2 linked regions of the Homo sapiens genome follow. The protein of the gene in region 1 interacts with the protein of each later gene in a biochemical or structural test. Each region holds a gene or a part of one and is shown on either strand. Other genes may lie near its edges.

Evidence for each region. The genes of interacting proteins can lie anywhere in the genome.
Region 2: the proteins of BAG1 (region 1) and RARA form a complex in vitro, tested with the Homo sapiens proteins (one study listed by BioGRID).

Annotation. Positions count from the first base shown.
Region 1 is NC_000009.12:33,262,617-33,266,361, reverse strand, and holds the start of BAG1 (BAG family molecular chaperone regulator 1), read left to right. Parts: upstream 1-1,653; 5' UTR 1,654-1,687; coding exon 1,688-2,138; intron 2,139-3,531; coding exon 3,532-3,660; intron 3,661-3,745. Other genes in the region: CHMP5 (charged multivesicular body protein 5), read right to left, coding at 248-352, 1,215-1,283. UniProt on the Homo sapiens protein: Co-chaperone for HSP70 and HSC70 chaperone proteins. Acts as a nucleotide-exchange factor (NEF) promoting the release of ADP from the HSP70 and HSC70 proteins thereby triggering client/substrate protein release.
Region 2 is NC_000017.11:40,307,615-40,311,359, reverse strand, and holds the start of RARA (retinoic acid receptor alpha), read right to left. Parts: upstream 2,181-3,745; 5' UTR 2,074-2,180; intron 1-2,073. UniProt on the Homo sapiens protein: Receptor for retinoic acid. Retinoic acid receptors bind as heterodimers to their target response elements in response to their ligands, all-trans or 9-cis retinoic acid, and regulate gene expression in various biological processes.

The sequences.
Region 1 (3,745 bases):
TAGCTGGGATTACAGGCGCCTGCCACCATGCCCAGCTAAGTTTTTGTATTTTCAGTAGAGACAGGGTTTCGCTATGTTGGCCAGGCTAGTCTCAAATGCCTGACCTCGTGATCCACCCGCCTCAGCCTCCCAAAGTGCTGGGATTACATGCATGAGCCACTGCGCCCAGCCGAACTAGGCCCTATTTCTATAGGTGCTAAAACTAGGCTCTGCCAGCACCTTGTGCAGCAGTTGCTGCCCACCTTACCTTTGCAGGACCCTCTCTCATCTTCTTGATCTGATCCTTATACTTCACTAGCTCAGCATCCAATCGAGAAATCTTCTTGTCAATGGATTCTGCTCTACTGTCCACCTTAGGGGAAAATATCAAATGCACTGGTAGTTACTGCAATACACTTATTCCAGAAGGGGCAGGTAGAGAGGAAGGAATACAGAGGAAGAAAAGAGGAGCTTAAGGGGAAGGGTGAAAAACAGTGGTTCACAAAGAAGGGTATTCCCAACCAGAAACCCTGGGCTTTATAAATTATTCTCTTACCCCCCGCCACACTGCCCCGATTCTGATATACCAGGTAGCCTTCAAGTGGGTTGGGGCAGAAAATAATTTGAGAATCACTGAGTTGAGTTGGAATTTCCCTAGAATCAGAGACTAGCCAGGCTGAGAGTTCCTCCAAGAGGCACATGAAATGGGCCAGTGCCAAGTGAAACCAGCTGATTGTAGATCTAATGCCATTCCCTAAATCGGGGATGGTGGCTTAATCTGAGGGGCTAGGGTTCTGAGTTTTGTGTTACTGAGATCCAGGACGAAGGCACAGATATGTTGACCTAGGATATCAAGCTGAGTCCTGATGTGGACTGGGGATGACAGATGGAAGAAGGGTAAGGGATCAGGCAGGATGAGGTGGGAAGGGTGTATGGGCCTAGGGCTGGGTGAGGTGAGAGGATCAAGGCGAGAGCGAGTGGACGGGCAATGGGCATCAAAACGGGTTGGGTGCTGGCAGGGCAAGGCAGTGATGGGGTTAGGGGTTCCCTGGTTTGTGGCGTTAGGAATGACTTGGGTAACAGGGATGAAGGGGAGAAGGTGAGATAGAGAGGGACGACGTGTAAGGGGCCCAGGACCCGAAATGAAGTGGAAGAATATGGGCCCGGGGCTGGGGGTGGGCGGGGTCGGGTGTGTCAGAGGTCCTGAGCCTACTTATGCATGATCAAATGCCCACCGTGCCAATGCAGTCAGTCAGGCTGGGCGGCGGAGCCTTGGGTTTCGCTTTCCCGAAGAGTCGGTTCATCTTGAGCAGCCGCGAAGAAACCCAAACACTAGAGCAAAACCAGAAACGGAAGCAGAGTCACTCCCGCCTCGACTTCCGGCCCCTCCGTGCGCAAGCGCAATATGCCTCCTGGCGTTTCCCGATTCTTTTTCCGGATTTTCAGCCGGGTCTTCCGGGGATGGAGAGCAAAAGGACTTGGTGCTCTCGGAGAGAGCCTGCAGGGGGCGGGGTGTTGGTAGAAGGAGTGGGAGGGGTTTTACTGTAGCAAGGCGGGGCCTCAGTTGAGTGGGTGGGGCCTGGAGGCAACTAACGCGGCATAGGGCGAGGGCGGGGCCGGCAGGCCGGGGCGGGGCTGGGAAGTAGTCGGGCGGGGTTGTGAGACGCCGCGCTCAGCTTCCATCGCTGGGCGGTCAACAAGTGCGGGCCTGGCTCAGCGCGGGGGGGCGCGGAGACCGCGAGGCGACCGGGAGCGGCTGGGTTCCCGGCTGCGCGCCCTTCGGCCAGGCCGGGAGCCGCGCCAGTCGGAGCCCCCGGCCCAGCGTGGTCCGCCTCCCTCTGGGCGTCCACCTGCCCGGAGTACTGCCAGCGGGCATGACCGACCCACCAGGGGCGCCGCCGCCGGCGCTCGCAGGCCGCGGATGAAGAAGAAAACCCGGCGCCGCTCGACCCGGAGCGAGGAGTTGACCCGGAGCGAGGAGTTGACCCTGAGTGAGGAAGCGACCTGGAGTGAAGAGGCGACCCAGAGTGAGGAGGCGACCCAGGGCGAAGAGATGAATCGGAGCCAGGAGGTGACCCGGGACGAGGAGTCGACCCGGAGCGAGGAGGTGACCAGGGAGGAAATGGCGGCAGCTGGGCTCACCGTGACTGTCACCCACAGTGAGTGTCGGGCGCCAGGTGGGCTCCATGCAGGTCCCGAAAGCCCGGCGGGGTCTGTGGGTTTAGTCACGTGTCCTCCAGAAGCGTGTGACCTTGCGCTTGTCCTGGCGTCCGGAAGCGTGGGTTATTGGTTGTGTCCGTGGAACTGTCTTTTGTCCCGGGCTTGTGTCTGTACACTTTTCCATGTGGCCGGTGTATTTTGTCTCTGGTCATTTGTGCGATCCTGGGTGTTTGAGCTTCTCCGTGCTTTACGTCGTGGGCCTGGTTGTGTTTGTGTGCCCGCGCAGTTATTGTGCCCTTTGTGTCAGGCATATATTGGGCCATGTGGTCTACGACTGCTCCGTGTGTGATAAGTCAGAACTTCGTGCATGCCGGGGTGCTCCTCGTGTGCTGAGTGCCTTCTCCGTGTGCGCCGCTTGAGTTGGCCGTGGGTCCAAGCGTTGTACTCTGGGCACCCTTTGGGTCTGCCTACTGTTGGAGTTGACACACCACCAAATGAAGTCAGTACACCGGAGAGCTGAGTCCATGAGGTTTCTCTAGAACCAGCTAGGGGAGGCCCAAGGGTCTGGGAATCTGGAGACCTGGATTCTAGATCCTGCGGTTTTGAGTGACCTTGGGATGGACGGCTTCTTCTAAGAATCCGGTTTCTCCTCTGTGAAGTAGATTTGGTAACCCTGGCTCCTGCTGACCTCACGGAGCTGTTGGGGGAACCAAACCTTGGTGTAATGTACTGTACACAGGCTCCCTCCTTGCTGTCCGCATCCCTGGAAAAGAATTGGCGTCTCTTCTTCAGAAAGAAAGGCTCTGCTGTTCGTATGCATTTGTCTGTTTACTTAGCACAAATCATGGATGCACTCAAGTGTGTTCAGTGGGAGAGACTTGGAGGAAAACAGTCACTTGCCCATTACAGCAAGCGAGACGAGACCAATACAATACAGGGTACAGGGCAGTCAAGCCACAGGAAGCAGATGGCTTGTGATGAAAAAGGTGGGCTTGGGAATCAGCTAGATCTGATATCAACTTCTGATTCCAACAGTTGAGTCTCCATAGGCAGTCCTTAACTTGCCTGAAGTCACAGTTTGCTCATCTGTGAAATAAGAAGTAATAGGTAGATCTACTTCGTGGGGTTTATCTGAGGATTAAATTAGATTATGCATGAAATGCTTAAAATGTTAGCAGATATCATTCATATTGTTAGTTATTATAATAGAGGAAACAGAGATACTTGAGGAGGTCACCAGAGGAAAGCTGGGTGGCATGGGGGCAGGCTCTGTGGAGTAGGTGGCATATGAGCTGGGCCTTGAAGGCTGGGTAAATAAATGTGATAAAGTGTCATCCTATATTGGTGTATGTGAAAGAATCATATTCGTCAAATGCTTTTCTTTCTCCCCAGGCAATGAGAAGCACGACCTTCATGTTACCTCCCAGCAGGGCAGCAGTGAACCAGTTGTCCAAGACCTGGCCCAGGTTGTTGAAGAGGTCATAGGGGTTCCACAGTCTTTTCAGAAACTCATATTTAAGGGTAAGCATTTCTTTTTCTTTCTTTCTTTTTCTTTTTTTTTTTTTGAGACGAAGTTTCACTCTTGTCGCCCAGGCTGGAGTGCAAT
Region 2 (3,745 bases), on another chromosome or scaffold:
GTTCATTCCTGAGCTTCCTCTGGCACCCCTTCCTTGGGGCCAAGCCAAGTAAGAAATCAGCAGGCCCAAGGTGGTGCTTGGGAGGCCGGGGCAGTGCCAGGGGCAGTCCTCATACCATCCTCCCACTGGCTTCCCTCCTGCCTGCTCTTAGCCGCCACACATATCTCAGCTGTCGAATCCGATTAGGGCTCCTGCCCAGTGAGCCAGACAAGGAGGCCACTGGGCAGGGGAGAGAGAGACAAGGACGCCAAGCAGGGATGGCAGAAGGAAGGTGGAGACATGGCTCAGGGGAGCAAGTATGGGGCCCCAGAGGAAGAAATGCCTGGTGGAGAGATCTGTACTCTGTGACCACAGGTGCTCTGGTAACAGCTACAACCTGCATTAGGGGAATTCTGCAGTAACCGGGGCAATAGCCCTGCCTAGTTCCTCCATCCCCCAGATGGGCAAAGGATGGGGGAAGAAAACTAAAGGCGGAGAGATTGACCTAGATTTAGGAAGAGGATTCCATCCTAGATTCCCCCAGCCATTACTACCGTTTGCAGTGAGCTTTACGATACATTGTCTCTGTGGTTTTAGTGGCAATGTCCCTGCTTGCTACTGATAGCCATTTTTACAAATGGAGAAACTAAGGCTTAGCAAAGGGGAAGACCTATATAAACACATATAGTTAAGTAACCAGTCTAAGTCTCCAGTTCAGGCCTCTGATTCCTAGTTCACTGCTCACAGTCAGAATCTCTACTTTCCTTGTTGGATCAAGACCAGAACGAAGTCTGAAGCCAATTCATTATCCACCCTGTCCTCTAAAACCAACCTTTAGGGGACCCGGGGAGCCATGGAAGAATGCAGAGCACACCCCACACCTAGACAGAGCTACCAGATGGGGACATGCCACCCATTCCTATCATACATTGATTGCTAGAGGAGTTCCCTCAGTGTGACCAGTCTCTTCTATCACCCCCCTCCCCAGTCTACTACCCCCAGAAGCAAGACACACACTCACACATGGTAAGTCAGACAAGGTGTACACCCTTCCTGTAAACCCACCAAACCAGAATGACACGCCCTAGATCTTCAGAGAGCAGGGCCTGTCTGCCCACCACAGGAGAGAAAAATAAGCCACTGTAAACAGTAGGTGCCATCTAGCCCTCTCCCAGAGAGCCTGTAGCGGGGCAGAAGCTTGGGGACCTTGTAGCTCTAGAGAAACACCAGGAGCCTGAGATTCTGAAAGCCAAGAAGCTCAGGGAGCTGGCAAGGCTGGGTGACCTCCTCAATCTGGTCCACACCCCCTTCCCTAGCCATCTGGACTGAGCCTGTTCTGGCCTGGGCCACACTCTGGTATCCCTCCCCTTCAATGCATGCAGCCACCTCTATCCAAAGCTTCTAGATCTTACAACCACATTGTCCCTACACACACACACACACAGGTGGGGTCGGGGGGCTTCTGCAGCAGGTGTTGAAATGTTGACATGGATGGGGGCTCTAAGCTGAAAGAACTTTCCTAGAGGAAAAGCTCACCAAAATGCTCACAACCTCCACTACCCTCTAGCAAAGCCTTTAGCCACCCAAGTGTGAGATGAACCTGGAAGGGGACATTAGTTCCCCTACAAGGTGTGTAGGGAGTAGGGGCAAAGTCCTGAGCTCTTTGGGTGAGGAAGCAAGAAAGAAATCCCTTGGGAAAGCTCAGGTCCCTCTCTGGCTCTCTCCTCTCTCTGTTACCTCAGCACTTGCCAATTCTCCAGTCTAGGTGAGGTGGGGGAAGGGGTATTAGGCAATACCGCAAAGGAGGGTGCAAGGGCGTGGGGCCTGGGCAGACCTTCCCCCTACTCCCCACTCTTATCTAGAGAACGGGAACTGCCTCAGGAGAAATGCAGGAAGGGTGCTGGAGGGTGCAGAGGGCTCTGAGCTTTCAGACACCCCACTGTTCCCAGGCTCCCACCTCCCAGGACTACAGTGAGCGACGGGAGAGGAGGGATGGGGAAAGCCAGAACTGGCGAGAAGGAAATGGCTAGATCAGAAGCAGAGGCCGGGGTCAAAGGCGGCCAAAGAATTGGGAAGGGGTGTGCATGGTCCTACCTGCTCAGGTGTGTGCTGGCAGGGGGCCGATGGGGTTCCCAGGAGAACCGGGGAAGCCCTCTCAGCTCGATTCAGGATTCCCCCCTGCTTCTGGGTTAGGCTGCTGCAAGAGGCACGGGTTCCCGTTGGGTCCTAAAGCCCACTCGCCAACTAGAAGGCTCTCCCCGCCCTCTTCCACCAGCCAGCCCCGACTGGGTCAGCGGGCGCAGAGCGAAGGACTGATGGGGGAGAAGTAACCCACTGGAAGAAAGATGGGCGTCTGGTCATCGGCTGGGGACAGGAACAGTTCCCTGTCTCAAATACACAGCATATGGATAACTCGAGGATAGGATGACCTGAAACAGGAGAAAATAGACATTTCTTCCTGCCTGCCCTGAGCAGATGGATTTAGGTTTTGGTGCTGGAGGTGGGGTTAAGATCTCTTTCCCTGCCACTCCTGCTAAGGCATTCAGCTAGAGATTTTGGAAAGGGAGCATTCATTTTGGTTGGGCGCTCACTTCTGTCCTCTTCCTCATGGACTGCAGGAGTCCCTTCATCCCTCCCAATTATTCCCAAGGACCTAGGAGGCCATAGAGGGTGAAAAAAGATTTTCAGCATGTAAAAAGTGCAGGCTCACTTAGATGGCAGCTGGAAACAGGGGAAACATGTAGGACCAATGTATGTGTATCTGGGAATGTGTGGGGTCTGCAAATACACATATATAGGCAAGAGTATAAACAGGTGGGGTTAGGGAAGGAGAAAAAAACAAAAAAGAACTTTGGGTTACACCTATTACTGGAAATGGTAATTGTCAGTGGAAGAACAGGACGTAGAACCTAGAGGTCAACTAGTGCCCCTACCCAGCCCTCAGTAATGTCCCGAATCTTTATGACCAGAATAAACAAGTTAAAGAGAGAATATTTTCCTAGATACCATTTAGGATAAATATAGGGGCAGAGGGACCTCAATACAACAGATCAACTTCAAGGTCACTGATTCAGTTTAGTATAGCCAGTCTTCTCAGTAGCTCAAAAGGGAGAATTCAGGTTTGGTGGGCTAGATGGGCAAGAGAAAGCTGGATAAGAATTCTGAAGTTGTGGATTGAGAACATTTTGCAAGGAGAGTTGCACATATCTCTAGCAGCAGAGCAGGGAAAACGTCATGAGGGGAAGGGCCAGAGGAAGTCAGCGACAGACTTGAGGGGAGAGGGCATGGCCTCTCCCTAGAAGGGGAGAAGACACCAGCAATGCCTCCACCTCTGTCTTGCAGGAAGAACTGAGTAAAGGAGCTGGACTAAGGATGGAAGGCCCCAGGGTGGAGTCCATGGGGTGAGTTTAGGTCAAACCTTTCACCCTAATGTGCCTCAGTTCTCTCCCAGCTGTTAAACAGGGCTCTTCGTTCTTCCCAGGCAGTTAATGAGTGTTTACAAAAGGGTTTGGAGATCCTCAGATCTCAGCTGGGCCACCACTACAGTTATAAAGTTCAATAAGAGCTGAGTGTTATTTGGGGAGGAGAGGAGTAGGGGAAGGAAACAGATACTCTCTTATAAACTAAGGATAAAACTAAGCTCAGAGAGAAGCACAAGCCTAGCTGCCACAGGATATCCTTGTGCCCATGGATGGAGGTCACCCCACCCCCCCATCAACCACCACCAAAGGCTGGCCTCCAGCTAGCTGTAGGCAGAACCCAGACT